Homo sapiens: one gene and its partners. The protein of the gene in region 1 interacts with the protein of each later gene in a pairwise test. Each region holds a gene or a part of one and is shown in the gene's direction. Other genes may lie near its edges. The genes, in order: PCNT, CEP85L, PNISR, RRBP1, MYT1L, NIPBL and EIF4G3.

What was found.
Region 2: the proteins of PCNT (region 1) and CEP85L interact in a two-hybrid assay, tested with the Homo sapiens proteins (one large-scale study listed by BioGRID and IntAct).
Region 3: the proteins of PCNT (region 1) and PNISR interact in a two-hybrid assay, tested with the Homo sapiens proteins (one large-scale study listed by BioGRID and IntAct).
Region 4: the proteins of PCNT (region 1) and RRBP1 interact in a two-hybrid assay, tested with the Homo sapiens proteins (one large-scale study listed by BioGRID and IntAct).
Region 5: the proteins of PCNT (region 1) and MYT1L interact in a two-hybrid assay, tested with the Homo sapiens proteins (one large-scale study listed by BioGRID and IntAct).
Region 6: the proteins of PCNT (region 1) and NIPBL interact in a two-hybrid assay, tested with the Homo sapiens proteins (one large-scale study listed by BioGRID and IntAct).
Region 7: the proteins of PCNT (region 1) and EIF4G3 interact in a two-hybrid assay, tested with the Homo sapiens proteins (one large-scale study listed by BioGRID and IntAct).

Annotation. Positions count from the first base shown.
Region 1 is NC_000021.9:46,410,722-46,415,284, forward strand, and holds part of PCNT (pericentrin), read left to right. Parts: intron 1-467; coding exon 468-1,346; intron 1,347-2,115; coding exon 2,116-2,271; intron 2,272-4,563. UniProt on the Homo sapiens protein: Integral component of the filamentous matrix of the centrosome involved in the initial establishment of organized microtubule arrays in both mitosis and meiosis. Plays a role, together with DISC1, in the microtubule network formation.
Region 2 is NC_000006.12:118,469,465-118,474,027, reverse strand, and holds part of CEP85L (centrosomal protein of 85 kDa-like), read left to right. Parts: intron 1-3,383; coding exon 3,384-3,491; intron 3,492-4,563. UniProt on the Homo sapiens protein: Plays an essential role in neuronal cell migration.
Region 3 is NC_000006.12:99,418,450-99,423,012, reverse strand, and holds part of PNISR (arginine/serine-rich protein PNISR), read left to right. Parts: intron 1-4,563.
Region 4 is NC_000020.11:17,657,614-17,662,176, reverse strand, and holds part of RRBP1 (ribosome-binding protein 1), read left to right. Parts: intron 1-1,648; 5' UTR 1,649-1,669; coding exon 1,670-3,581; intron 3,582-4,563. UniProt on the Homo sapiens protein: Acts as a ribosome receptor and mediates interaction between the ribosome and the endoplasmic reticulum membrane.
Region 5 is NC_000002.12:2,320,660-2,325,222, reverse strand, and holds part of MYT1L (myelin transcription factor 1-like protein), read left to right. Parts: exon of another isoform or gene 1-1,204; intron 1,205-4,563. UniProt on the Homo sapiens protein: Transcription factor that plays a key role in neuronal differentiation by specifically repressing expression of non-neuronal genes during neuron differentiation.
Region 6 is NC_000005.10:36,984,297-36,988,859, forward strand, and holds part of NIPBL (nipped-B-like protein), read left to right. Parts: intron 1-379; coding exon 380-2,005; intron 2,006-4,563. UniProt on the Homo sapiens protein: Plays an important role in the loading of the cohesin complex on to DNA. Forms a heterodimeric complex (also known as cohesin loading complex) with MAU2/SCC4 which mediates the loading of the cohesin complex onto chromatin.
Region 7 is NC_000001.11:20,939,398-20,942,897, reverse strand, and holds part of EIF4G3 (eukaryotic translation initiation factor 4 gamma 3), read left to right. Parts: intron 1-567; coding exon 568-1,407; intron 1,408-1,502; coding exon of another isoform or gene 1,503-1,522; exon of another isoform or gene 1,523-1,654; intron 1,655-3,500. UniProt on the Homo sapiens protein: Component of the protein complex eIF4F, which is involved in the recognition of the mRNA cap, ATP-dependent unwinding of 5'-terminal secondary structure and recruitment of mRNA to the ribosome. Functional homolog of EIF4G1.

The DNA of each region.
Region 1 (4,563 bases):
CACCACGAGCAGTGTTGGGATGGAAGGGGAGCGTGCCCGGCTCACCGCTTTGTTGGTGCAGATTCTCTGCCTAGGTTTCTTACTTTCCTCCTGGAGTCAGAATGACACCTAAAATCTAATGCACCTTCAGGAAAATCAAACAAATCAAAGTTGTTTAAATATTAACAAAATAACATTTAAAGGGTGGTGAAAGCATCATTCTGTAGATGTCCTTGCATGGAAAATGACTGCATTAGAGCTTCGTCCCACGATCAGACGTGGAGCACAAGGTGTGCACCAGGGCCCAGTGGCAGCCAAGGTGGGTGTGGAGTGCATCCGGCACCAGCAGTTTGCTTCTATGGCTGCTTTGTTTTTCACGCTATGGAGTCTTCACTCCAAGAATGCATTCAGGATGTAACGTGCCCTGAAGTAGGGACATTCGGAAGTGGATACATTTAATTTGCCTCTGAAATGTCCTCTCTCTTCAGGTCATATATACCAGAAGTTCTGAGATTGAAGAGCTGAAAGCCACTATTGAAAATCTGCAAGAGAATCAGAAACGATTACAAAAGGAGAAAGCAGAGGAAATTGAACAACTCCATGAAGTCATTGAGAAGCTGCAGCACGAGCTGTCCCTCATGGGGCCTGTGGTGCACGAAGTCAGCGACAGTCAGGCTGGCAGTCTGCAGAGCGAGCTGCTCTGCTCCCAGGCCGGGGGCCCTCGTGGGCAGGCCCTACAGGGCGAGCTCGAGGCTGCGCTGGAAGCCAAGGAGGCCCTGAGCCGGCTGCTGGCTGACCAGGAGCGCAGGCACAGCCAGGCCCTGGAGGCCCTGCAGCAGCGCCTCCAGGGCGCAGAGGAGGCTGCGGAGCTACAGCTGGCTGAGCTGGAGCGCAATGTAGCCCTCAGGGAGGCTGAGGTCGAAGACATGGCCTCCCGGATCCAGGAGTTCGAAGCGGCCCTGAAAGCAAAGGAAGCGACGATTGCCGAGAGAAATTTAGAAATCGACGCTCTGAACCAGCGGAAGGCGGCCCACTCTGCCGAGCTGGAGGCCGTCCTGTTGGCCTTGGCCCGCATCCGCCGCGCCCTGGAGCAGCAGCCCCTGGCAGCCGGGGCGGCGCCTCCCGAGCTGCAGTGGCTCCGAGCGCAGTGTGCCCGCCTCAGCCGCCAGCTGCAGGTGCTGCACCAGCGGTTCCTGAGGTGCCAGGTGGAGCTGGACAGGCGGCAGGCCCGCAGAGCCACAGCTCACACACGGGTGCCCGGGGCCCACCCACAGCCTCGCATGGATGGTGGCGCCAAGGCCCAGGTCACCGGCGACGTGGAGGCCTCCCATGATGCTGCTTTGGAGCCGGTTGTCCCTGACCCACAGGTGGGCTCCCCCCGCGGGCCATGGCAGGGTATTTTTTTTTACTCTCCTTTTCTCCTTTGATGTCAATGACTTCTCTCTGCGCTGGGCACTGGGGGCTGCAGTTGTCATGGTGGCTCATGACACAGCGGAGAAAGGGGGCCTGAAGCTCGGGCCAGCCTGGGCCTGTTCCGTGTCAGTACGCAGTGAAGCTGGGCTGAGGATTTCACTGTTTTGTACCATTTTAAGCTTATCGTTTTAAGCTTTTAAAAACAATTCTTTCTTTCACATAATAGGGACTGTCCAGTGAAACGGAGCTCACTATGTGAGGAGGGTCCGCTTAAGCTGCTTCTCTGGTTTCTAACCAAATGGTTTGTCTGTCGATGAGCAGTGCCTGTGTGAGATGTGGCGAGCGAGCTCTTCTTTTGGAGCTGGAGGCCCTGTAGGGAGTCGTCTTTTAAGGCTTCCACTTGTATTTGAGCAGAACCTTGGGAACTTGGTGCCTACCACCCCCACACCAGCTGGGTCTTTGTAGAGTGGCTCCCACTCTCAGATGCCCCAGTCCACCTTGCTCTGTGGGGTCGTCCTGGGTCGGGGCAGCTTTCTGCTGGGTCCTCAGCCCCGTTCCCATGTGGCCTGCTGTGGACCAAGGTGCTCGGCTGTGGATGTCACTGCCACCTCCCTCTGGCATCCCTGCTGGCTGCCGTACTGGTTCCCAGCTCCAGGCCACCTGAGGGGCAGCCCCAGCAACAGCCTCCTGCATGCTCAGCTTTCCTCTGTCTCCTCTGTCAAGGGTGATCTGCAGCCTGTCCTGGTGACGTTGAAGGATGCACCTCTCTGCAAGCAAGAAGGCGTGATGTCAGTGCTCACCGTCTGCCAGAGGCAGCTGCAGTCGGAGCTGCTCTTGGTGAAAAATGAAATGCGCCTGAGTCTGGAGGACGGCGGCAAGGTGTGGGGAGGGGGGAAGGCGCGAGGTCCCCCCGGGAGAGGCTGGACACGCGGCAGCAAGGTGTGGGGAGCGGGGAAGGCACGAGGCCCACCCGGGAGAGGCTGGACACGCGGCAGCAAGGTGTGGGGAGCGGGGAAGGCACGAGGCCCACCCGGGAGAGGCTGGACACGCGGCAGCAAGGTGTGGGGAGCGGGGAAGGCACGAGGCCCACCCGGGAGAGGCTGGACACGCAGCAGCAAGGTGTGGGGAGGGGGAAGGCGTGAGGCCCCCCTGGGAGAGGCTGGACACGCGGCAGCAAGGTGTGGGGAACGGGGAAGGCACGAGGCCCACCCGGGAGAGGCTGGACACGCGGCAGCAAGGTGTGGGGAGGGGGGAAGGCGTGAGGCCCCCCTGGGAGAGGCTGGGTGCAGAACATGTGGGTCTTGCCCTGGGCAGAGGCGGGTATTCTGCTGAGGTGAGGAGCACAGTCCGTGCCTGCAGTGACATGTTCTCTGAATCCTTTCTGTTCTGTAACGAGCTGTCCATAACTGTTGTGAAATTTCGTACGTGCTTCATTTAAGCCACTCTGTAGAAACAATCAGTTGGGTTTTTTTCTTGTAATTGATCCAAATGGATTTAACTGTGCTCGAGGGTTAGTCCTGGTTTGTCTTTTCATGGGAGGACCACATCGCCCCCGTGGGCCTCACCTCAGCTCAGGACTTTGATGGCCAGCGTCTGTTTTACTTTGAAAGGCCTCAGATTTATTCTTGTAATCTGTTCACCTCACTCCATATTGTCACTTGAAAAAAAGCTGGCACTTCTTTTCCCCGGGGAAGGAGGTTGCACCTTGACCATCTCAAATTGTAGCAGGGTGGAGATTTAGCGAGAAAAGCGGGTGCTGGTGCTTCTCCCACCCAGTGCACCAGGGGCAGGTCCCCAGTGCCCCTAGGAAACACCTGCGCAGGAGCTGCCCTCTCCTCAGGCCGCATCAGGTGCAGATGGCACCTTTATTTTTTTTCTCTCTTTTTTTTTTTTTTTGAGACAGAGTCTTGCTCTGTCGCCCAGGCTGGAGTGCAGTGGCACGATCTCAGCTCACTGCAACCTCTGCCTCCCGAGTTCAAGTGATTCTGCAGCCTCAGCCTCCCGAGTAGCTGGGACTGCAGGCATGCGCCACCACACCCAGCTGATTTTTGTATTTTTAGTAGAGACGGGGTTTCACCATGTTGGCCAGGCTGGTCTTGAACTCTTGACCTTAGGTGATCCACCCTCCTCAGCCTCCCGAAGTGCTGGGATTACAGGCGTGAGCCACCACGCCCAGCCTTAGATGGCACCTTTTGATGCACTGTCTGCACCTCGCCTCCTCCAGTCCAAGGCCCAGCGCAGCCTCCCTGGACACACAGCCACCCACCCTTCTCCTCCTTCTCCTCTGGGACACACATCTGTCCACCCTCCTCCTCCTCCTCCTCCTGGACACAGTCGCCCACCCTCCTCCTCCTGGACACACAGCCGCCCACTCTCCTCTTCCTCCTCCTTCTCGACACACAACCACCCACCCTGCTCCTCCTCCTCCTCCTCCTGGACATGCAGCCGCCCACCCTCCTCCTCCTGGACACGCAGCCGCCCACCCTGCTCCTCCTCCTCCTCCTGGACACACAGCCGCCCACTCTCCTCCTCCTGGACATGCAGCCACCCACCCTGCTCCTCCTCCTCCTCCTGGACACACAGCTGCCCACACTCCTCCTCCTGGACACACAGCTGCCCACCCTCCTCCTCCTGGACACGCAGCCGCCCACCCTCCTCCTGGACACACAGCCGCCCACTCTCCTCCTCCTGGACATGCAGCCGCCCACCCTGCTCCTCCTCCTCCTGGACACACAGACACCTACCCTCCTCCTGCTGGACACACAGCCACCCACCCTGCTCTTCCTCCTCCCCCTCCTCCCTGCTGTTTGCTAAATGTGCCCCAACTACTCCTCCAGGCTCTGAAACCCAGAGGCTCTAACACCAGAAGTGCTGGGCAGGTGTTTTATGGTCTCTAGGGTGGCACGGAAGCATGCTTGGTGCTGAAGCCTGCTGAGACCTGGGCTCACCCGAGCCCCTCGCAGCCCTCGTGAGTGTCCCGCACGTCGCTGGGACGTTTCTTGCATGAGTGCAGGTGCCGCCTGTTCCTGGGTCCACACTGCGTGCACCTCATTGGCGTTTAGAGCCTGAAAGATTCTTAATTCCACAGAAATCAGGGAAGGATGGGCCTAGGCCCGCAGTTCTGAGGAGACCCATGAACCTGGTTCGTGTGCTTGTCATGTGCTCTCGGGA
Region 2 (4,563 bases), on another chromosome or scaffold:
CAAGTTACAAGATGATAACTAATTTAAGAAAGGAATTCGAGCTGTACATTGTCTTAGATTCTTAGAAACATTAAAAAAGGCTCTTTTTTTTATTTCTTATCTCCCCACCACCAAAATAAACACCCTGCTATACATTTCAGATTTCCTATTAATGGCATCTCTGCCCTTCCATTTGTTCAGTCCAGGTATCCTAGATTTATCCTTGACTCCTCACTTACCTCACATTTGACAGCAAATTCTACTACCTTGAAAGTATGTCTAGAATCTGACCTCTTCTCCTTGCCTCCTCCATTGCCACCCTGTTCCAAGCTGTCTCCCTTTCTCATCTGGGTTATTTCTTCATGCTTCTACCCTTGCCTGTGCACAGTATACTCTCATTAGGTTAAGTGATCCTTTTGAACAAAAATCAGATTACATCATGTCTCTGCTCAGAACTCTTCAGTGGATCCTCATTTTTTTTTTCCAGAATAAAAATCAAAGTTCTTATACTGATTTCTGAGGCCCTATACAATCTGTTCTGCATGCTGTCTTCCTTCTCTGACTCTTTCTCCTACTATTCTCAGCCATCCTGGCTCTCTTGCTTTTTCTCAAACACAGAAGACACCATCTGTCCCAGAACCTTTGTACTGATAGGAACTCTGGATATCTCTGGGACACAATCTCTCACTTCCTTCAGGCCCTTGCTTACCTGAGATTTCAGTCTCCTGACCCTTACTGTGCTCTGTTCTCCACAGCACTAGTCAAATTCTAATACATGATACTGTGTAACTTGCATATTTATTTTATTTCTTTTGGTCTTTTTTCTCCTAGTAAAGTTCCACAAAGGCCAAGAGTTTTGACTGTTTGTTCACTGATGTATCACTCAATGAACAGAACAGTGTTTGGCAATGATTTTTGCATGAAGGAATGTCCCTGTGAATTTCTTATATGGTATGCATGTTTATGTGTGTATATATGCAGTAAAAATGTTAACATAAATTTTCTTTCAAAATAGTTCCTTTTAAATTGGGTTTGGGGATTATATAGAATCTGGACTAAGGCACACCTGGTTTTCCCTCATTCAAGCTATTTGTAAATGGGGCATTTCTGGATACTTACGTTAAAACAACAAATGTGCTTATTTCCACTGTTCAACTTCAAACATGATCATTATAAAGACCTTGTAGGTTAGTACCTTGGCAGAATTTTTAAATGTCATGATTAAACTGAGAATTTGAGAGCTGTTGTAGGTGTTTGCAAATTAATTTTTAATTTTATTAATCCCCTACATGTCTAGTGAATGATAAATAGTTATTGTAAAATTCACAAGGCCAAACACTCGTTTCAGAAAATATGAGATATTTCATTTATGCATTGTAAAGTACTACCAGTTTGAGCAAGTATATTTTAAGAGCTTAAGAGATTTCAAAAAAATGCTCTGCAAAAAGTATTTATAAAATAACGCACAGTATTCTTGATAGAATTTTTCTTGTTATCTTTTAAACATATCTTAATACAATTTAGGATAGAGAAGTAATTAATGTTTTAGGTGAAATGTTACTGTCAGACAACTATAGCACTCATACCTAGTATTATCCTAGACCAATTTGTACAGCACTTGGTCCTTTCAGGATAAGCCTATCTGCAATGTCTTTTACCTATTAAAGTGCTTCTTGATAACTGCCCTTCAACTCAAGCAACATATGAGAAATCTGATTTTCCTTTTTGTGATAAATGGCAATACTGCCAGACATTTTCAGTTTTTCTGATGGAGAAGATTGCCTGTTTCTGCACTGATTAAAATCAGTCTTACATAGGGACATATTAGTTGGATTTATTAGCTAATTATTAGTCACATTCAACATGACTCTGAATTGGTAAAAATATAAAACTCTTATCTTTTAAAGGACTGTATTCTGTTACAATGTATCATTATTATAATTATTCTGTTATATATAATAATTATATTGTGAAAACACCCCTCGAGTTTAGTTTTTTTTTTGTTAGAATGTGAGTTTGAGTAGTGTGTCTATGATGCCCTTCTTCTGTAATTCTAATAAACCGTCACAAATCTTGAGAAAATTTAGGTTGAATTCTGGATTCCAGCCAAATAATCTTGTTAGGCCAGAAAGGATAGATCTTCAGCTAGGTAAATAACTCTCCATGTTCATTTAATCAAATAAGATTTGAGTCAATCTAATGAAGTTACAAAGGAAATTTCAGTTTTCAATAATACACGTATTCAGAGAGCCCCTTGTTGACTTGGTGCTTTTTTTTTTTTCATTTTTGTGGAATATAAAACAACTTTTCCCTAGAAGGAGAAACACTTGTTATAGAGTTTGATTCATTTCTGTCCAACTTCTGAGTTACTAAATGTAATATTTTTTTCAGAGTTTAGCAGACAAATGAAATTTAAAAGCAACAAGTTTGAGTATCTGTTACTGATAAAACTGCTTTATATTTATGGAGTCTTATTTCAACCCATGGTGATAGCTATCTTTTTTTACTCCATCCAAAGATAATGTGAGGAAAATATCTTTATAGTAGATTGTGTGCTATTTAGGTGGTCAGCAAACTGAAGTATTGTCAGAATTGAGACTAAATACAGACCTGAAATAAAATGATAACCTCTCTTCTGGTCATATGTTTATTGATTTTGTGGTCTAATAAAAGGAAAATAGTTGATAGAAACACTTAGAATTCACTAATAACTACAGGGTGTATGGCAATTTTTTCTTTTAATATATTGGTGAAAAGACTAACCAAAGACTCAAAATGTCCTTTATGCTGCTTTGGCGTACTCACAATAGTGTCATGTCTAGGTAATTTGCAATTTTATAAGGAGTAAGAAGGAGATTAGCTTATCAAATTCCCATAATAGACCTTTGACCCAGAGTTCACAGTATATTCACTGCTTGGATTACTATACAATGAAAGACGGGAGCTATGTTTCAAATGATAGAAAATAGGGATGATATCATGATCTTATTATCTTGCATCTCATTAACTGTAAGCAAAATGTAAAACAAAAATATAGATTTGTTGCTAATACACTCTCTACATATAAAAAGTTAATGAAATAAGAACTGTTTGTAATACCATATTAAGTAGGAACTTCAGATTTGACATGTTTTATACAAATTAAAAACTTCCTTGGTAAAAACTGTAATTTAAAAAAATCCAAATGTATTCTGGGAAACCAGCATTTCTTTTTCTTTTTTATTTGGATTCAGCCACTCTCTAACTGATAGGGATTAGTTTAAAAGTGAAGGCTTCATCTTCCAAGGGGATGGGGAGGAAAGAAGATTTAAAGTATTCAGAGCCAACATTCCTACTTCTTTCTGTTTGAGATTTTTCTTTACATGTTAACCTGTTTTGCTTTCCAATTTTTTTAAAAATTCTAGTCTATGCAAGGAAAGCTTTCTAAAGAGAAACTGACCACTCAAAAGATGATGGAAGAGCTGGAAAAGAAAGAAAGAAATGTACAGAGATTAACAAAAGCATTGCTTGAAGTGAGTAGAAGAAATTCAATTTTGCTTTGAAAGGATGATTCACTATAAAATGCTTATTTTATAGATATTAATAGAGCATTTTCAGATTAAAGACATGATTTTGATATGCCTGTTAATTAATTCCATTGTTTCTTACCAAAATTATTATAAAAAGACAAACCTTTATTTATTTTGTGTTTTAGAATACAGTTTCACATAATTATAGTACAGTATATATTTATTATATTTATTAGCTGGCATTCATCTATAAAAAAGTTTTTTTCCAATCACCCCAGGCTATTGAGTTATTCTGAAATACAGTTCCAATTGGAAAGCTAATTAAAGTTACCTTTAATTAGCAGTTTTCAAGATAAGAAGGTAGCAGTTTTGGGGATCAGCAATTCAGAGTTGTTGGTTTTTTCTTTTTTTCTTCTTCTTTGATTTTATACTTGTTATTTCTTTGTCTCTCGCACCGAAGTTTGTGGTTCCTATCAACATTAACATAGATGCTTCCCCCCACCAATATGCAAAAAGTAGTTTCAAAGTAATTAAACCACTATTGCTACTAACAATAAAAACCACAGAGTGAGGTTCAAAGTTACTTTTTAGTTCTTTTTATCCTTGGAATAAATCTCATTATAGAAAAATACAGGCTGGGTATGGTGGCTCACACCTGTAATCCTAATACTTTGTTTTGGGAACCTGAGGTGGGCAGATCACTTCACCCCAGGAGTTTGAGACCAGCTTAGGCAATGTGACAAAACCCTCTCTCTACAAAAAATGCAAAAATTAGCCAGGCATCATGGTGTTTACCTGTGGTCCCAGATATTCAGGAGGCTGAGGTGGGAGGATCACCAGAGCCCGAGGAGGTCAAGGCTGCAGTAGTGAGTCATGATTGCGCCACTGTACTCCAGCCTGGGTGACAGATTGAGGCCCAAAAAAGAAAAATACATACACAACCAACATGCTTATTACGTGAGAGACTCCTAGAAACTGAGACTGGATTTATGTTTCCTCCCTTGGATATACGCTAAAGCATCAGATGGCACAGAGAAACAATTTCCACTATTTAAATTGTTATTTTTCTATGTGT
Region 3 (4,563 bases), on another chromosome or scaffold:
CTCGTGCCTAGGTGTGCTTGTTGCTACTAGGGTGTCATTTTGGGCGCTCTCGCTACATTTATTTTTAAATTATTATTGGGGGGGTATTTATAACCGACTCTCCAATTCTCCAGTTTTTTTTTTTTTTTTTTTTTTTGAGACAGAGTGTCACTCTGTTTCCCAGACCGGAGTGCAGTGGTGGCACAATCTTGGCTCATTGCAACCCCTGCCTCCCGGGTTCAAGTGATTCTCCTGCCTCAGCCTGCTAAGTAGCTGGGACTACAGGTATATGCCACCATGCCCAGCTAATTTCTGTATTTTCAGTAGAGTGGAGGTTTCGCCATGTTGGCCAGGCTGGTCTCGAATTCCTGGCCTCAAGTGATGAACCCACCTTGGCCTGCCAAAGTGCTGGGTTTACAGGCATGAGCCGCCATGCTTGTCCTCCACTTTTAAAATAGTCTTTTGAGCTACAAGCTGCAAGTATTTCAGTATATACTAAAATGCATGTCACATAAAGTAGCAAAATTTCTGTTTTCCGTATTTCGAATGATTACAAGATTAATTTTTACCAGTGCCATTTCCACCTAATCTGAATTAAACAAATAAATTCTTTTTTGACTTTGAGGTCAGTCAACTCATGTAAGACTGAAATGTCAGGGGTGAAGAGGATTGTTGTATTTTCTGGCTTCTCAGCTTTGTGGTTGATTTGAGAAATATTTCATCCTATGCATCAAATGATAGATGTGTTTCTGTAGCTCTTTGATTTTGTAGTTGATGCTCAAGGACTTTAAAATACCACATTTTAATTCTCATCCATCTCTGTCACAGTCTCTGAGTGACTTTTGTAAATATTAATGATTGTCATTTTGGCCACACGGGGTGGCTCATGCCTGTAGTCCCAGCACTTTGGGAGGCTGAGGAGGATGGATCATTGAGGCCAGAAGTTTGAGGATAGCCTGGGCAACATGGTGAAACTCCATCCCTACTAAAAAATACAAACATTATCCTCGCGCGGTGGCATGCACCTGTAGTCCCAGCTACTCGGGAGGCTGAGGCATGAGAATTGCTTGAACCTGGGAGGTGGAGGTTGCCGTAAGCCGAGATCACACTGCTGCATTCCAGCCTGGGCGACAGAGTGAGAATTTCTCAATAATAAATAAATGATTGTCATTTAAACAAGTTGTTTTAGGACCTCAAAGCGATGAAGTTCTAATATAGATACATTTAAGAAAAGGATAAAATAGATGATGGCCATTTCTGGTTGTATTAGTTTTCTAGGGATATTGTAGCAAATTACCACAAACTGGCTGATTTCAAACAACAGAAATTTATTCTTCCACAGTTCTGAAGGCTAACAGTGTAAAATTGAGGTTTTGGTAGGGCATGCTCTCTAATGGCTTTGTAGGGGATTCTTGTCTCTTCCTAGCTTTTGGTAGTTCTTGTCAATCCTTGATGTTCCTTGGCTTATAGAGCCATCTACTCCCAATCTGTACCACTGTGGTCATGTTACATTCTCCCTGTAAGTGTCTTATGTCTCCTTTTTAATAAGGTCCCTCCTAATCAAATATGAACTCACTGTAATTTGAATACATCTGCAAAGACCCTATTTACAAATAAGGACATACTCACAAGTATCACTTGATACTCACAAGTATCAGGAGTTAGGACTTCAGTGTATCTGTTGGATGGGGACACAATTCATTCCATAACACTGGTGATAGCTATCACTTGATTTTTTTGCGGCAGTGTGTGGTGGCTTTGATGATCTGATACAAACCTTGGTTATTCATCTTTCTGTTCTTCCCAGACCCCATTTGTTTTCCAAGGAAATAGCAGTTCACTTTACCACATGAAGGGAAATACTGTTAGGAAAGTCTTGCAGCCTTGCCCGTCATTAATCAAATTTCTCCAAACTTGAAAACCCAAGCCTAACAAGCTTTAAAATTAAGTCTAAAGGAAGAGTGAATAAATTGGAATCAATTTTTGATATTATAAAATCACAGTAGCAATATTGGAATGTCATTTTCATGGTTGAACATTAATGTATTTACTTGCTAACATTTCAGTGAATTATAAATATTTAACCACTTAACATGGACAAAACATTATGGAGAATTTAAATTATTATAAAATGTTTTCTCTCCCCTAAAGAAGATTTTTGTTTGAGCCAAGACAAAAACATGAAAATTTAATGCAGACCCTCTATAAAAAGTATTATTGTATGTCATCTTTAACTTATTAAATGAAAGCTTTCAAACAGTGGTAAAGAAGAGGGTAGCAAATGCCCATCCTTAAATTATCAACATTTTCCAAATCATTTTTAAACCAACTTGTAAATGTCATTTTTAATGGTACAACGTTATGTTATTTTGTTAAACCATAGTGAAATTTAAAATATGTATCCATTGATTACTGTGTGTTGTGCCTGTGTATTCCTTCTGTTTTCTAGATTTTGCATTTGTTGGATTTGTTAGTAGTGAAGATACTATGGTGAAGATGAAGGAAGAAAGAGTAGTGTTCCTAAATCCTTGCCATAAAATCACTAGTAATCTTACTGTTTAATTAAACAATAGTTAATGAAACTCCTTATCAAGCATTGTGCTATGTGCTGAAACATATATAAAAGTTTAAGTATTTCCTAGTTTTAAAACAAGTCTTTACTACAATCTGTCTCTTTTCTACAAAATTTTAATGTAAGTGCAAATTTTGTTTTCATGACCAGAGTTACCTGTTTTGGATAAGATTATCAAAATTTACTCTAAATCATATAAGAAAATGAGACAGAGAACATTTGCCCAATGCATGAAAAATGATGCCACTTGAGGCCTTTTCTTTTTAAGAATGCAGTTATGGGCCGGGAGCGATAGCTCACGTCTGTAATCCCAGCACTTTGGGGACTGAGGCGGGAGGATCACGAGGTCAGGAGATTGAGACCATCCTGGCTAACAGGGTGAAACCCTGTCTCCACTAAACTACAAAAAATTAGCCGGGCGTGGTAGCAGGCGCCTGTAGTCCCAGCTACTCGGGAGGCTGAGGCAGGAGAATGGTGTGAGCCTGGGAGGCAGAGCTTGCAGTGAGCCAACATCGCACCACTGCACTCCAGCCTGGGCAACAAAGCGAGACTCCATCTCAAAAAAAAAAAAGAATGCAGTTATGTATAGAAAATTACTAAATTACAAAATCTTCTCAAAACTGCCAAGCTCTAGGAATTGGAAATAGGAATCAGGTATTTTTAATCTTTATTTTATATTTTTCTGTATTCTTTTAATTATTTTATTCTGTCAATGTGTATTTTTAGAAAAAATACAGATTTTTAAAGATACAAAGAATCAAATGAAGCTAATGAACACAGTCCATAATGACTAGTACAGGCAGTACAAATTACACAAACTTCTTCAACTGTGAGACATTGGGCAAATGTCCTCTATCTCATTTTCTTATAGGATTTAGAGTAAATTTTGATAATCTTATCCAAAACAGGTAACTCTGGTCATGAAAATGAAATTTGGACTTATATTAAAATTTTGTAGAAAAGGGACAGATTGTAGTCCCTTTTTTTCGCTTAATGCAGTTTGTACGGTAATACATGCCAGTATGTAGCAGTCTACCTTATTCATTTTAATGGCTGAATAGGAATCAACTGTATGGTTCACTCTAACTTATTTAACTTGCCTTTAATTTAATGTCACTGAAACCAGATGTTTACTGTTACAAAATATGCTGCCAATTTTTGAATTATGGTATGAATATTCACATTCATGGTTTAGGACCCTGCGGTGGAATTGCTGGGTCAGAGGGATGTGCATGTACGTTTTGTTAAGATGCCATAATGGTAAATTGCCCTTTTTTTTTTTTTTTTTTTTTTTTTTTTTTTTTTTTTTGAGACGGAGTCTCGCTCTGGCACCCAGGCTGGTGGAGGGCAGTGGTGCTATCTCAGCTCACTGCGACTTCCACCTCCCGGGTTCAAGCAGTTCTCCTGCCTCAGCCTCCGGAGTAGCTGGGACTACAGGCCAGTGCCACCATGTCCGGCTAATTTTTTTGTATTTTTAATAGAGACGGGTTTCACCGTGTTAGCCAGGCTGGTCCTGAACTCCTGACCTCAGGTAATCCACCTGCCTCAGCCTCCCAAAGTGCTAGGATTACAGGCGTGAGCCACCGTGCCCAGCCAGTAAATTGTCTTTTAAAAAGACTAACCATTTGGTGTTCCACCTGTGCCCTCATCCAGTAGTCATCCTCTGTAACTAAATCAAGTTTCTCAACTCCAGACTTAATTAAAGCGCTTTAATAAATAGCCTCTAACTTCCTTAACTTACCATCACCTTCTTTACTGTATTTTTATTCTGCTCTGTTTTTCCCAATTTCACATCTTTTTTCTATTTTTCTCAGCCTAAGTGTCCCAAACATTATATTACTTGAATAGTAGCTTCCATCAAAACTTTGGGGAAGAAAAGCTTCTAAAAATATAGCAAAAGTAGAAGTGGCTGTTCTAAACATACAGAAAAATGATCATAGGTGATACAAATCAAACCCTTGAAAATATGCAAATTAAAACCTCTGTTCATAGGAAAACTTTTTTTTTTTTTT
Region 4 (4,563 bases), on another chromosome or scaffold:
ATTCTCCTGCCTCAGCCTCCCGAGTAGCCTGGACTACAGGCACCCGCCGCCACGCCTGGCTAAGTTTTTTGTATTTTTAGTAGAGTCAGGGTTTCACCGTGTTAGCCAGGATGGTCTCGATCTCCTGACCTCGTGATCTGCCTGCCTTGGCCTCCCAAAGTGCTGGGATTACAGGCGTGAGCCACCGCGCCCGGCCGAGAGTGATTTTTCTTAGAACACAATGCCAAGACATTGAAAACAGTCTCCCTTCTCAGTCCCTTCTTTAAAATGCCCTCATGTCAAAATTTGGATTTGATTCCTACTCTGTTTCCTTCCTCTATAACCACTCAAGAGGAGTGGGGATCTCAATGTCTTAGGAGAAGAATCTCAGTATCTGAGCCACTAAGCAGCCTGGACCCAGTCTCCCACAGCATCTAGAGGTTTTGCAGGGCAATGCTGGGGGAGGCCTGTCCACTTCCCCTCCTCTCCTCTTCCACCTCCTTTTACCTCCCCTTAACCACCCCTTCTTACCCTTGTGTTCTCTTTGCTCATTCCATCGATCTTCTTTAGAGAGACTCGGGACTGGCTTGAATGTATCCAAATAAATACACCTCCTGGAGTTCCTCAGTGAAGTCGAACTTAGCCCGGGCTGTGGCAGGAAGGTGTATGAACCTGGATGCCTCTGACCCATTGGACTTTGGTCCATAGGCAGTGAGAATGGTGTTGTTCATTCTTATGGTTTGGGGAGTGTTGTCTGACAGAGGGGCCTGCTGACACTGTCTCCTCACCCTCTGTGCAGCTTCTGGATGTGAAATTCCAAACCTGGCATCTTCTGGGCCTCCCAAGACTGATTCTTCCTGTTTCCCAACATGCAAATTGCAGGCTCCATAACTCCTCAGGAGCTATTGCTGGCAAAAGGCTATTTTCCCTCACTGAATTTTTGAACACGTTTCAGGATTGTAATGCAGAAGTTTTTATCTCTGATCCTGGGTAGCAGCATTTATTGGCACTGGGGAAGAGGGAAACAACAGAGTGGAGATGGCACACTGTGGGCCTGCTGGCTAAAATGCTTGTGGCTGAAAGCCTGCAGATGTGTTTGGTTTGGTTCGGTTCACATATTTTTTAAATCAGTCAATTTCACGTTGAGAGAAAAATTTTTTAAAAGTGTCTGGCCTAACATGAAAAATCAAAACATCTTCCAACTCAGCAATCACATTTCTAGGGCAATCGGCCATGACAGAGTGTCACTGTCTAATTTTAGGTGGGGGCGGGTGTTTTTACTACAGTCTCCACCACTCCCCATGGTCTCACACCTGGCCTGTGTTTGTGCTCCTGTGCATCTTTGACCTTGGGTGGGGAATATCTTGCATCAGGGTCATGGCTGCTGAGGCTCCTGGGCGTGTGTGCTCCAGAGATAGGCCTCCACTCTGCTCTGACTCTGCTGTTGCTTTGTATGGGGACTGCTCATGCCTTGGGTACGAATCGCTCACTCCTAAAGAGGAGCAGGTGAGAATGTGGGACATCAGAGAGTGCCTGGGTTTGTTTCTTCTCTGAATTTATTAGCCTGAAGAAAGAATTAGTGAAACCTGAAGTTTGGTGGTAGGGTGGGGATAGAAACTGTTGAAGGCCTTGATTTCTATAAATAGTAACCTCCATGTATGTTTGACAGGTGAAAGGAAAGCAAGCCAGGATGGATATTTACGACACTCAAACCTTGGGGGTTGTGGTCTTTGGAGGATTCATGGTTGTTTCTGCCATTGGCATCTTCCTGGTGTCGACTTTCTCCATGAAGGAAACGTCATATGAAGAAGCCCTAGCCAACCAGCGCAAGGAGATGGCGAAAACTCACCACCAGAAAGTCGAGAAGAAAAAGAAGGAGAAAACAGTGGAGAAGAAAGGAAAGACCAAGAAAAAGGAAGAGAAACCTAATGGGAAGATACCTGATCATGATCCAGCCCCCAATGTGACTGTCCTCCTTCGAGAACCAGTGCGGGCTCCTGCTGTGGCTGTGGCTCCAACCCCAGTGCAGCCCCCCATTATCGTTGCTCCTGTCGCCACAGTTCCAGCCATGCCCCAGGAGAAGCTGGCCTCCTCCCCCAAGGACAAAAAGAAGAAGGAGAAAAAAGTGGCAAAAGTGGAACCAGCTGTCAGCTCTGTAGTGAATTCCATCCAGGTTCTCACTTCGAAGGCTGCCATCTTGGAAACTGCTCCCAAGGAGGTGCCGATGGTGGTGGTGCCCCCAGTGGGTGCCAAGGGCAACACACCAGCCACTGGCACTACTCAGGGCAAAAAGGCGGAGGGGACTCAGAATCAAAGCAAAAAGGCTGAAGGAGCCCCAAACCAGGGCAGAAAGGCAGAGGGAACCCCAAACCAGGGCAAAAAGACAGAGGGAACCCCAAACCAAGGGAAAAAGGCAGAGGGAACCCCAAACCAAGGCAAAAAGGCAGAAGGAACCCCAAACCAAGGCAAAAAGGCGGAGGGGGCCCAGAACCAGGGTAAAAAGGTAGATACAACCCCAAACCAGGGGAAAAAGGTGGAGGGGGCCCCAACCCAGGGCAGAAAGGCCGAGGGGGCTCAGAACCAGGCCAAAAAGGTAGAAGGGGCCCAGAACCAGGGCAAAAAGGCAGAGGGGGCCCAGAATCAGGGCAAAAAGGGAGAGGGGGCCCAGAACCAGGGCAAGAAGGCCGAGGGGGCCCAGAATCAGGGCAAGAAGGCCGAGGGGGCCCAGAATCAGGGCAAGAAGGCCGAGGGGGCCCAGAATCAGGGCAAGAAGGCCGAGGGGGCCCAGAATCAGGGCAAGAAGGCTGAGGGGGCTCAGAACCAGGGCAAAAAGGCCGAGGGGGCTCAGAACCAGGGCAAAAAAGTAGAAGGGGCCCAGAACCAGGGCAAGAAGGCTGAGGGTGCCCAGAACCAGGGCAAAAAGGCCGAGGGGGCCCAGAATCAGGGCAAAAAGGCCGAGGGGGCCCAGAACCAGGGCAAGAAGGCCGAGGGGGCCCAGAACCAGGGCAAGAAGGCCGAGGGGGCCCAGAACCAGGGCAAGAAGGCCGAGGGGGCCCAGAACCAGGGCAAGAAGGCCGAGGGTGCTCAGAACCAGGGCAAAAAAGTAGAAGGGGCCCAGAACCAGGGCAAGAAGGCTGAGGGGGCCCAGAACCAGGGCAAGAAGGCCGAGGGGGCTCAGAACCAGGGCAAAAAGGCCGAGGGAGCCCAGAACCAGGGCCAAAAAGGAGAGGGAGCCCAGAATCAGGGTAAAAAGACAGAAGGGGCTCAGGGCAAAAAGGCAGAAAGGAGTCCCAACCAAGGCAAAAAAGGAGAGGGAGCTCCCATCCAGGGCAAAAAGGCAGATTCGGTTGCTAATCAGGGCACAAAGGTAGAGGGTATTACAAACCAGGGGAAAAAAGCAGAAGGGTCCCCCAGTGAAGGCAAAAAGGCAGAAGGGTCCCCCAACCAAGGCAAAAAGGCAGACGCAGCTGCCAATCAGGGTAAAAAGACAGAGTCAGCTTCTGTCCAGGGCAGAAATACAGATGTGGCCCAGAGCCCAGAGGCACCAAAGCAAGAGGCTCCTGCCAAGAAGAAGTCTGGTTCAAAGAAAAAAGGTGAGCCTGGTAAGTAACTGATTTCTTTATGAACTTAGAAGGAAAGGCTGTCTTTAAATGACTTATGGATTCTCTCGGGGAGTGCCACCTGTATCAGTCAGCTATTGTCATAATAAGGCTGCGTAACAAACATTCAAAAAAAAATTCAGTGGCCTTCAACAGCAGTCATTTATTGTTGCTCATGCTTCTGGAGGTTGGCAGATGTGAGCTTTCTCGGTTGGTGGCTCTGCCTCAATCTGGTTTTAACTGGGTTGGTGACTCTTTGCTACAGGTTGAGCTCAGGTCAGTTCCATGTGTGGTCCTTCTGGCGCCCTCCAGGGCAGAGGCCCTTCATAGTTACAACAGAGGCACAAAAGGGCATTTCAAGTCAGCATTTCATTGACCAGATCAAGTGATGTGTCTGAGCCTGAGTCAAGGGGCAGGGAGTCCACTGTGTCCAGGGAGAAGGGACTGCAAGGTGATGTGAGAAAGGAGAGGTGAGGAGTGAGCAACAGGTCCGTGTCTTGGCATGTCTTAAACATATGGGAGCACAAGGAGAGGTGAGGAATTAGGAGCAATAATTCTGTCCACCACACAGTGTAGAAGAGTTCTGCGTGTTGGCAAGTCTTTCTTAACTGTCTGGCTGCGTTCTGTCAGCCTGTTCGATGTTCTTGCCTCACCTGATGCTTTTGTGCAGCCTGACTCGGGTATCTGTGCTTGTTGAGTGAATGATGGTAGGAAGGTGTTTTTAAGGAGCAGTTGCATTCTTTCCTCTTCTGCCTTCTCCTTCCCCTGCGCCACCCTAGTCATTTGGTAAAGCATTATAGAGCATTAACATAAACACTGGATTACATAGATATATATGTGATCATATGAAGCACTGGTTTACCTTTATCTGTTTAGTGTATATTACTGTAGAAATTGGTCCAGGGAGTTCCTGTTTCATGTTTGTCATTCATTCAGTTTCACTTATGTTTTCTTTCTCTCCTCTCCTTTCCTTTCCTCTCCTCTC
Region 5 (4,563 bases), on another chromosome or scaffold:
TTGTTTTGCTTGGATGTTAACCAGCAATGCCATCTAAAATACTGTAGGTTCAGCTTACTTCTGTGAGGTTTCTTTGGCCACAGCATGAATTTACCATAACATCAATGATACGAGAGATATTTTTAGATATATTGCCTAGCTGGTAGCTGCTAACAGCCTGACTCCGGTATTTACAGTTCTCATCTATTACATTAAATACAGCACTGCTCATGATACACATTCTGCTCTAGAGATTTAGGGGCCTGTGGGTACAAGGCAAGCAGCATACTGCACACATCTCCACTCGTGTCTGACTGTGTTGCAAGCTTGATACACAGGAAGGTTAGAAATTACTGGTTTAATCCACAGCTGTAGCTTGAAAAATATCTAGATCAGCAGTGAAGTTCCCTCCCACCTTAGGATTTGGGGAAGTGGATATGTTTTGTGTTGCTTCAAGGAGGCAGCCTGAGACAGGGTAAGTCAGCAGGATGCTTCCGAGGCTCTTCTGCTGCAGCGATGTGGTCTCTAAGGGAGCGTGAGCCTGATGCACGCAGCACAGGCGGGACTCGCAGCCCGGCGCTGTCTGTCTGCTGCCTTTTGATGGAGGCTGCACTTCACCCGCCCGGCAGAGCGCTGTACGCATGCCCGTCTTCCCTGTCGTTTAGTGGTGTCAACTTATTAATTTCCATCTTCGACTTCAGGCCTGTTAGTTTCCTGTCTGAAAGCATTATTACTTTTGTCCATGTGGCAAAATAATTAGCATACAGATGAGAAGTGGCCCCTTGCCTGGGCGCCGGTAGAGAGAGAAGATGTGCAGTGGAAAGTTGATTGGATGAATGGAGAACAAATGGTGGGCGTTCAAAAGCATTAGAAGAGTTTTGTAGTCGTGGAGCAGGTTGGAGAATTTTCTGGGTGAGTCCCTAAGATGGAAGGCAGGGGTGGCTGCCGTGGGAACAACTGCTTGTCAGACGCTGGCTTAGCCGAAGGTGCCAAGTGCGGCTGTAGGCACAGATAATTCATTGGGACGACTTTGTTTTGCAAGTCTTGAGGCTGCTCTTTGATATCCCCTCCAGGTAAATATGTCCTGTGCTCCCTGTCTTCACCAGAGCATTTGTTCCACTTCCCAAAGTGGAGCAAAGTTGAACTCCTGATGGTCAGTAACAAAAGAATAGTCATTTGCTGCCGGTTTGGGGTAGCGGCTTGATCCGTCTTCGTGTGCATGTGCCTGAAGTGGAAATTAACTGTTTAGAGATGACTGTTTTTAGAAACTTACAGCAGCCATTATTCAATGTGTTTAATTAATATTTTCTGAAACCGTGCATCGAGACCAGCAAAATTAGCAAATGTTGTTTCAATTAAAGCCCAGACATAATTAGTTTTGACTAGTATGTATTTTTCCTAGCTGGAAGATGATTTTAGCTAATTTAACCAGCAACTTACTGGAGATTGTGAAAATTGAACTGAAGTTTCTATTGATCTGTAGAATCTACAACTAGGAAATGTGGAAATTAGCACACAGTGATACTCTGAGTTCTTTTCAGAAAAATGGAGATCATTTTTGCAAATCAGTCTTCTGAGTTGAGAAGTAAGAATAAAGAGCCTGCTGGAATCCTAATTTTCTATTGTCATCAGTGACACATTTCTTATATAATTCTGTGACTGTACTACTGCAATATGGGTGTTTTAATATTTAGTTAATTATACTTCCATGGTAGGAATTCACTGATAAATAGTTCTATCCTGTTTTAATAATTCCTATTCTCCCGAAAAGGCAAGGTTTTTCATTTTAACTGACCTAATTATTTCACCTGCTTTTTAGGTAGAACTCAAGTAGAAATTGTTATTCTTTAACTGTCTTTTTATAGATTCCTGAATATTTTAGATCACTTGATTTTATTTTGCTTTCATTTTAAGCTTTTTTTCTAAAGAGTTGCTTTACTTTAGCTGTTTGCTTTAAACAATAACAGTGAATATTTGACAGAAAATACAACTTTTGGGGGGAGGGGAAAATTTTCTGTTTAAAAAAATATATCTTTTCAAAAAAGAAAGAAACCACCTTTAATGAATCTAAACCTCAAACACAAGATATTTAAAAACATATTAACCCTTCATGTGAAGCTGCTGAAACTTGCTTTTGATCATTTTCCCTCTCATTCTGCAAGTTTCTTAGTACTCACATTGAGCTTTTTCTGCATAATAGGTAAATTATCTATTGTTTTTTCAATGTGTGTGTGTTTATACACACAGACACATTTCTTTTTCTATTTCATTTTTAAATTTGCTGGTAAACTAGAATGAAGAAAAAAATTGAGTTTTTAAAAATTTAACTCAAGCAGTTTTAAATATCAGATTGTTTTCAAGCAGATTCATGAAATCTTACCTAGAGAAAAGTCATAAAGTCATAGTTCCATTATTTTCTCATTGCTACATTTCATTTTAGAGTTGAACCAAGCTTTATATGATTAATATAGCTGCTTTTAGCTTTATGATGGTGGTTTATAACTTTCTTGGGGCAAAATATCAGCATTTACTTTTTAACCTCACCTTGTGCATTTCTATGCAGAGATCCCTGAAAGCCCCTTCTCCACGATGCTCTTTGTGCCTGGCTGCCTTCAAAGGTGGAGCCCAGCTATTTTGTTTTTTTTTTTTTAGGGTCAAAATTGTGTCATATTAGTCTCCACTTCACGGAGCCCCGCGTGCCACTCTCCGTCACATTTGTTCTCAGGCTGTGGAGCAGGCTCACGGGCAAAGACAATGAAAGGTCCCAGGACTGGAAACAGGGTGATGTGCACCTGTCTGAAAAGGTGATTTCTAAGGGAATTTTTCCCTGTCTAGTTGCACTTTAAGGTTGAGTGTCAACTTTGGAAAGAAAAGCAGCCTTTCATGGCAAAATTTTTAATCAATTGTTGTGATTCCAAGATATTAGTCCAAAGATGAAGTGCTCTTTGACTTAAGTACCCTGTGTAGGCAACATTGGACAGTGTGGGGCGTCTGCTGTCTCAGTGGGCCTGCTCTGCTCACCGAAGCCATAGAGGGCATTGCTTTGGTGGGGTTTCCACTGATTGTGAAAGAAAAAAAAAAAACAGGTAAATATTTTTTATTCAAAAGGTTATTTGACTCTATTCCTTTTAAAATTCAGTACTGTCATGTATTTTCACACTCTTAGGAGTACTATAATTCCCCTCTTCCATGATTTTGTGAGTGCGTGTATATGTGTATTTTTTAAATGCCAGTGTGAAAATGTGTGTAAGCTGACAATATTTGAGCCATAGGGTTAGTATGTGTGCCATGTAAACCTGCTTTAGATGTGTTTGTGCACTCATTAATATAGTTGAAAGAACTTTAGGACTCAATATTACATACTGACTGCTTTTTACTGAAGTCTGACTGTTTACATAGAACACTCCAATTTCTTTAAAGAAAATTACCTCAAGGATATCGGGCACTTGCTTGAGAAATTTTCAAGTGTGGAATGTCAGGTTTAGGACTCTAAATCAAACAACTCATGAATTAATAATTTATGGGGGTCTTTTTTTTTAGTACATTGACAAAGATTTTCATTATAGGATTTCTAGCTCAAACACTGTTCTGAGTGGTGCCTTCATGCCGTTATCTCAACCTAAATGCATAGTGTGTTTTAATGGCCCTCAACAGAATGGTTTTTCAAAAGTCGGCATCACCTCTTGACTCCAGGGGCTACCACACCACTGAACCCTAAAAGCAATAAACCATTCTTAAGGGCTTACTTTAAATTCGGCCCAACCTCCCCTCCCTGGTGCACGAATTCCACCAGCCTGTGCCATCTGAACAGAAGCTGAAAGCACAGAGCATTGTCGCCATGAAACAATGCTAGCCAGACTGGTTGTAGAAATAAGCGAGTCTGCAGGGCACCCCATAGAGAGCCATCAAACCGAGTCTGCTCTGGAGCTGCCTGGTAGATTGTGAACATTCGGAAATCAGTGCCGCATCTGCCGGTGGACCCTGTGCTTCTCTGAAACTCCCACCTGCCCTAATGCATCTGGGCAAGAGCTTTTCAGAATCCAGTTTCCTCCAGGATAAATTTAATATGTCTTGAGGGCCAGGCACAGGCAAATTGATTCTATCTCTGCACCAGAAGAACTCATCAACATCTGTAAGAACACAGATTTTCAACAACCCCAGGATTAGGGGATGCTATTTTGTAAAATATATTCCAAGCCTACTCCCTTCATACCTCATGCCAGCATGGCATTTTTTAATTAGGAAGTTGATTAAAAAGGGCATGGTAGACCACGGATGTATGGTCTCCTGGCATCCATCCAGCTGTTTGTTGTCTGGGTCGTGGAAAGCGTTGCTCATCACCAGTTGCAGGAGCGAGGGGGAAATGATTATAAGGGATGGCAAGAATGAAACTGTTCTGCTGTATGTGCTAATGGCAGCTGATTGTGGCTTCCTGTGAACCAGCCTTTCCTACAGATAGACTTGCTGACTTCCTTCATGAGACAGAGACCACTTGTACTTGGAAATAACTTGGAAATGTAGAAACTAGGTGTATTATTCAGTGGTTCTGATTTTTCAGTGATCAACAGGATAAGTCATAATGAC
Region 6 (4,563 bases), on another chromosome or scaffold:
GATTTGTAACTGGTTGCTTTATTATTAGGAAAAGAATCTGATTTATCCGTGACATCTATGAACATAAATATATGTTTGTATTTGGTACATTATAAGTTCTATTCATTTTATATTCTTACACTTATTTATATCCTTAAAGAGTATGCAGTTAAATTCTTTTTACTATATTTATTGAGATCTCTCAAGCATATTTCTTCAAACCTTACCTTTCAAAGTATTGTGTCATTCATGCTTACTATTTTATGTGTACATATTTGCATTTGCATTTTACTCCATTTTAAAAACATAACCTTAAAAAGATAAACAACGTCCATAGGGTTTTTAATAAGATAAGAATACATGTCTATTACTGATATTGATATTTATCTTTAAATTTCAGATAAGCCTTTGAAAAAAAGAAAACAAGATTCTTACCCACAGGAGGCTGGGGGTGCTACAGGAGGTAATAGACCAGCTTCTCAGGAGACGGGTTCTACGGGAAATGGGTCAAGGCCAGCATTAATGGTTAGCATTGATCTTCATCAGGCAGGAAGAGTGGACTCTCAGGCTTCTATAACTCAGGATTCAGACTCCATAAAAAAGCCTGAAGAAATCAAACAATGTAATGATGCACCTGTTTCTGTTCTTCAGGAAGATATTGTTGGAAGTCTTAAATCTACACCAGAAAACCATCCTGAGACACCTAAAAAAAAGTCTGATCCTGAGCTTTCAAAGAGTGAAATGAAACAAAGTGAAAGTAGATTAGCAGAATCTAAACCAAATGAAAACCGATTGGTGGAGACAAAATCAAGTGAAAATAAGTTAGAAACTAAAGTTGAGACCCAAACAGAAGAACTTAAACAGAATGAGAGCAGAACAACTGAATGCAAACAAAACGAGAGCACCATAGTTGAGCCTAAACAAAATGAAAATAGACTGTCTGACACAAAACCAAATGACAACAAACAAAATAATGGCAGATCAGAAACAACAAAATCAAGGCCTGAAACCCCAAAGCAAAAGGGTGAAAGCCGGCCTGAGACTCCAAAACAAAAGAGTGATGGGCATCCTGAAACCCCAAAACAGAAGGGTGATGGAAGGCCTGAAACTCCAAAGCAAAAAGGTGAGAGCCGCCCTGAAACTCCAAAGCAAAAAAATGAAGGGCGACCTGAAACACCAAAACACAGGCATGACAATAGGAGGGATTCTGGAAAGCCATCTACAGAGAAAAAACCTGAAGTGTCTAAACATAAACAAGATACTAAATCTGACTCACCTCGGTTAAAATCAGAACGAGCTGAAGCCTTAAAGCAGAGACCTGATGGGCGATCTGTTTCTGAGTCACTAAGACGTGACCATGATAATAAACAAAAATCAGATGACAGGGGTGAATCAGAGCGACATCGAGGGGATCAGTCTAGGGTTCGAAGACCAGAAACATTGAGATCCTCTAGTAGAAATGAACATGGCATTAAATCTGATAGTTCAAAAACTGATAAACTAGAACGAAAACACAGGCATGAATCAGGGGACTCAAGGGAAAGACCATCTTCTGGGGAACAAAAATCAAGACCTGACAGTCCTCGTGTTAAACAAGGAGATTCTAATAAATCAAGATCTGATAAACTTGGTTTTAAATCACCAACTAGTAAAGATGACAAAAGGACAGAGGGTAACAAGAGTAAAGTAGACACTAATAAAGCACACCCTGACAATAAGGCAGAATTTCCAAGTTATTTGTTGGGGGGCAGGTCTGGTGCGTTGAAAAATTTTGTCATTCCGAAAATCAAGAGGGATAAAGATGGCAATGTTACTCAGGAGACAAAGAAAATGGAAATGAAAGGAGAGCCGAAAGACAAAGTAGAAAAAATAGGATTAGTTGAAGATCTAAATAAAGGAGCTAAGCCTGTAGTTGTGCTACAAAAACTGTCTTTGGATGATGTTCAGAAACTTATTAAAGATAGAGAGGACAAATCAAGAAGTTCCCTTAAACCTATCAAGAATAAACCATCAAAGTCAAATAAAGGTAAGAATACTTCTACTGATGTCATTTATAATATAATCGATTTTAAGTGTTAAGATTACTAAGTTTTAAAAAGGAAATTTACAAAAATTAGAAAGCTACTACATGAAAATATAACATTTATGTCAAACAACAGGAAATTTTTTTCAGGAGTATAGATAAAAAGTTTCCAGTGAATTTTTTTTTCCCCACAGTTTTTTTCTTCCCACCCACTACTCAAGGTAGTTATGAATGTTACTGCTATTTGGTTACACAGAGATAAGTTATTTTGCTGTTTAGTTATTTCTTATATTTCTGAAATATGCTTAAGTGAATGTTGTATTAAAATAGCTGTCTTTAAAAACTCTCTATTTAAAAATGTCTTACAATACTACATTCTTACAGACCTGTGTCTGAGCCAATTATTGATGAATAATTTGTATAGTTTAGAAAGTTATATAAAAGGTTATTTTTCATTTTGTTGGGGAGATGGTTAGTTAAATATGTTTTATATTTTTAAAACATATCTTTTTGTCCTTGTTTATGCAAAGGTAATAGGGAATGGTACTTACTTTTTAAATTTGGTTAAATTGTAAGTTTGTGGGAGGCGGGGGACTGGTGTTATTTTTGCATGGTTTCTGAATTCTCTGGTTACTTGAGTAAAATTATTTCCAAAGGGAGAAGAATGTCTTAAGTGCCAAAAGATAATGGCCATTTGTGCAGAAGATATACTTCTGTATCCCTTTGTACACAAGTATTTAAAATAACTTTTTTTATTTTTAAATAGAGATGGGGTCTTGCTTTGTTGACCAGGCTGGTTTCGAACTCCTGGCCTCAAGTGATCCTCTCCTCTCAGCCTCCCAAAGTGCTGGGATTACAGGCGTGAGCCACCGTGTCCATACAGTCTAAATATACTGAGGTGTAGTGAAGGCAATAGAACTGAGAGTTTATTTAAGTTTTCCTTCTGTGAAAGAGAATTATTAAGAATTTAGATTTATACTTATATATAACCAAGTATATGAAATCTGGAATTGCATTGGCCAAGAGGGTAACCATTGCCTTTTTTGGCTATTTAAATTTAAGTTAACTAAAATTGGAAGTTCATTTCATTAGTAGTCACATGTGGCTGTTGGCTACCATATTGGACAAAACAGAACATTTGCATCATCACAAAGTTGTATAGCACTGCAGTGTATTAGGAGATACAAAAAGTGTGTGGTTATTGTTTTTCATAACATGCTGTTGTAGCTTGTCTACCAAGAAAGCTCTTTGAAAACATATTATAAAGAACTCTTTATTCAAAGAATGACTTGTGGCTAATCTGTTGTTATTCTTGCTTGGTCTTCGTCAACATTCATTTTTTCACTGTTAATTTATTTCCTTTTGTCTTACAATAATGAAAAAAGATTGCCTTCTGAGTCGCTAATATTTGTGTTCTTTGAGTGAAGCTTTTAAATTTTAAATTATGGCAATTAGACTTACCAAAAGTCAGTTAAGACATCAGCCTTAATTAATAAGTAGGCTTTTTTATTTAACTTGAATGCATCTTTTCAGAGTTACTTGTTAATATAAAAGAGGTTGTAGAATGTGGGGGTTAACACCACAATTGTTTTCTTTTAGGTAAAAATTTTCTTTAAAATTTTTTAGTGAAAGTTTGGGAGTAGCTTATATTTATAAACTAAAGAGTATGGCTATACAATTTTAGAAGAGTCAGGTGAAAGATGGAAAGTGGTACCCTCTTGTTCCTTTGATCTGGACCATCTTTCTCTCCCTCCCCTCTCAGCTTACCCTAGCCTTGCTTTCTAAACTCTGTTCTAACAAAGAGTCTTTTAAAACTCCTTAAAGAACATCCAGAAGTGAATATAGCTTTTAGTTAGTAATTGGTATATTATTTCACCTGGGTTTTTCACATGCAATAATATTGCCTATGAATATGTTTTTAGCACCAAAATGCGTTTCTGATAGTATACTTTTAATGCAGATGTATATACCTGATATGGTCATGTTAGTATGTAAGTAAGCTATCTGGGTGTCTGCCTATTAGAGTGATGTGTGTGTATGTGTACATGTGCATGTTTGTGTATATATACACATATATTAATGTAACTGCAATTACAGTAACAGTCCTTTTCATCAAAAAATACTATGTCAGTGCTTAGATGCATTTCAGGATGCCGTGTAGCTATCTTTTGGATTAATTTATTTATGTCTTAGGATCCATATCTTTTTTTTTTAGTAATGATCCAATTTTGGTTTTGTTTTAGATTTTTGCTACTCAGTTTAAATAGCAGAGTTGGGTAATTGTGGATTTTTTAAAATTGCATGTATATGAAGCACAGTTGTAGATTACTGACCCTTTGTAGTATATACTGGGATTTTCTTTGGAGATTCACAGAAAATCACATTTTGATGTGTTGATGATTTTCTGAGTAAAGGAGTTAGTCTGAATACTGCTGGGATACTTGTATGGTTGGTTCCTAGGGCCAAAATTGAAGAGCCATAAATTTCCATCTTTTAAATATTTTACCTGATGTTCATATAGAAAATATTCATTCTTTAGGATATATTTTAAGCTGATAAAT
Region 7 (3,500 bases), on another chromosome or scaffold:
AGTAAATTTCATTAAATAAAATGTGATGCTTTATCTTGAGTTTTTATACAAGTAATACTTTTTAAAATAAAAATTATCTCCCCAAATACAAAAATATATAGAATAAAAAATAACATCAGTCCCTTTATAATAATTTAATTTTTAATTGTTTGCCCTTGTACTGTTTTGCCACTGTAATATATCCTTGGAAAAAAAGTTTTTTAGGGAACGAGAAGTGGTAGAAATGAAGGTTTTCCTACCTTAAAGAAAAGCCTCACTCTTAAACCAAGAATGGTTTAGCCTCAGTTTTGGTGAGCTTTTCAGTTGTATTCTTGATATATAATTTTTTGGTGAATAGATTCCTTCTCTTACTCCAAAACAGACTTTATGTATTGGATACCAAGTAAATAGTAGGTTTAAGTAAAAAAAGAAAAGAGACAATGTTTTTGGCATACCAGAATAAGTCTAATATATTGGTCTCTGTTCTGTTACCTGTAATTTAGGGTAAGACATTGAAAGAATTGGCCCAAGGCAATATGTAGTCTCTGATCCAAGAATTATTCTTAAAACTTATTTTTTTTTCCCCAGAGGAGAAGCCAAAACCAGATCCAGTGTTAAAGTCTCCTTCCCCAGTCCTTAGGCTAGTCCTCAGTGGAGAGAAGAAAGAACAAGAAGGCCAGACATCTGAAACTACTGCAATAGTATCCATAGCAGAGCTTCCTCTGCCTCCATCACCTACCACTGTTTCTTCTGTTGCTCGAAGTACAATTGCAGCCCCCACCTCTTCTGCTCTTAGTAGCCAACCAATATTCACCACTGCTATAGATGACAGATGTGAACTCTCATCCCCAAGAGAAGACACAATTCCTATACCCAGCCTCACATCTTGCACAGAAACATCAGACCCTTTACCAACAAATGAAAATGATGATGATATATGCAAGAAACCCTGTAGTGTAGCACCTAATGATATTCCACTGGTTTCTAGTACTAACCTAATTAATGAAATAAATGGAGTTAGCGAAAAATTATCAGCCACGGAGAGCATTGTGGAAATAGTAAAACAGGAAGTATTGCCATTGACTCTTGAATTGGAGATTCTCGAAAATCCCCCAGAAGAAATGAAACTGGAGTGTATCCCAGCTCCCATCACCCCTTCCACAGTTCCTTCCTTTCCTCCAACTCCTCCAACTCCTCCAGCTTCTCCTCCTCACACTCCAGTCATTGTTCCTGCTGCTGCCACTACTGTTAGTTCTCCGAGTGCTGCCATCACAGTCCAGAGAGTCCTAGAGGAGGACGAGAGCATAAGAACTTGCCTTAGTGAAGATGCAAAAGAGATTCAGAACAAAATAGAGGTAGAAGCAGATGGGCAAACAGAAGAGATTTTGGATTCTCAAAACTTAAATTCAAGAAGGAGCCCTGTCCCAGGTAAGCCATTCTGCCATTAATCTCGTGCTTGCTGAACATGAAGAAGAGGCAGTGTTTGAGTTATTTTTTAATTGGCTACTTTCCTTGACTTCCAGAAACATCGAATGAATGCTGAAATTCCTAGTCTGGTTTCTTCAGTGGTGTGTTTGTGTTTTAGTACAACCTGCAAAAGAGTTACTCCATTGTCTAAAAATGCAAATGAGAATTTCCAAATATACAAAATGCCTCCAAGGTATATGTCACGAAACATGTTGGGTTTTGTTGTTGTTGTTGTTGCTATTGCCTCATTCATATGAATTGGTTTCTCAATGCTTAATTTTGCTGCTTTGGGGCTAGAAAACAAAAAACCAGGATGGTCTATAGTCCCTAATTCTGTCTTCCTAGAATTTTAAAACCCAGTCAATCCTAAAGGAACTCTTCTATGCATGACCAGTTTTTAAATCTTGGATGTAGGAAGATAGCAATCAGAACATCAAAGGTTTATAACTATTTTTGAAAATATAATGCTGTTGTTGATTCACTTGCAGGTAAGCTTAACGTTCTCTCACTTTGCCTTTTGAAACAGTTTTATTTTTTGTGTACATTTTTACATGGTCATTAATATCCTTGGAGTATTATATTCTTCCCAGTTCAAATTATTTCTTTTTAATGTAGCATCACCTGGGACCTTAGGAACTAACCATTGGGTTATTGTAAGTTTAATCAAAAGTTATCTGAGGCTTATCAGCTATTCTAGGATAAGTTAGCCCATAGGAATATTGAAGTTTTGGCTTTGAACAATTCAGCACAGCCTATCTTCTGCAACATTGCCCTATGCTATATAATTTCCTTTCTCTGTGCCTGTCAGATTAAGTAATGCGTATGTAAATTGGGCTTTTTGATAAATGAGTGCTCCTCCAGCAGTTGATCCTTGACATGCAGTGAATAGGTTTTGGTCACCATCATCCTCAGTATTTTTGTCTATTTTGAGGTGTATAATAAGGAAATTTGACAAACCCAAAAGCTGATCCCTACTTTTGAGATGTGGCTTTTCTACCCAGCTCAGTTCTTGAGACAATTTCCTCATCAGTGTCTGTAAGAGGTGTCTGGCCTTTTGGAACTGCAGAACATCTTGTAGAACACCATGAGCCAGCACAGGAAAGAAAACAATGCAAGGCAATTGGAACAGTGAGAAATTTTTCATAAATCTTTGTAAATTACCTGTTTCCTCAACTATCTGGCTTCCATTGACATCAGTATTCATAGTGCCATCACTGTTTTAGGAAACTTGTTCCTTGGTGGAGAGATGACCTTAGACCTTGTTTTGTCAGTTACCCTTTAGAAAAACAGCCTTGGGGCCGGGTGCAGTGGCTCATGCCTGTAATCCCTGCACTTTGGGAGGCCGAGGTAGGTGGATTGCCTGAGCTCAGGAGTTCGAGACCAGCCTTGGCAACACAGTGAAACCCCATCTCCACTGACATACAAAAAAAATAGCCAGGCATGGCAGTGTGGGCCTGTAGTCCCAGCTACTCGGGAGGCTGAGGCAGGAGAATTGCTTGAACCTGGGAGGCAGAGGTTGCAGTGAGCCAAGATCGTGCCGCCACACTCCAGCCTGGGCAACAGATCGAGACTCCATCTCAAAAAAAAAAAAAAAAAAAAAAAAACTAAACAACTTGGTGTTGGTGTGGCTGTAGGTAAATGCCCTCCGAAGAAACACGTGTTTGTTGGAGAACAGTAATTTGTTTGACACTTCAATGTTCATTTTCATTTGTAGTGATACGATAGTTACAAAAATGAGAGAAACTAATGAACAAAAATGTTTTTAAAATGTAAAAGCAAAGAAAAACAAAACAATCATAGGAAATATAAGTTGAAGATACAAACCATACCTCAGAATTGAAATAAGTGTAAAGTGAAAAGACCATGCATCAAAATCATACTTCACTCATTTCTGACATATATTCTTTTTTTAAACATCAGTTTGCCACTTAGATGACCTGATATTGCAAGACAGTGCCCAGGGATGGATGGGCAAACAGAATTTTGGTTTAAATAATGTTCATACCATGGTACATTTGTTTGAAATGCAGATGCTCTCAATATTAGTATTGTGA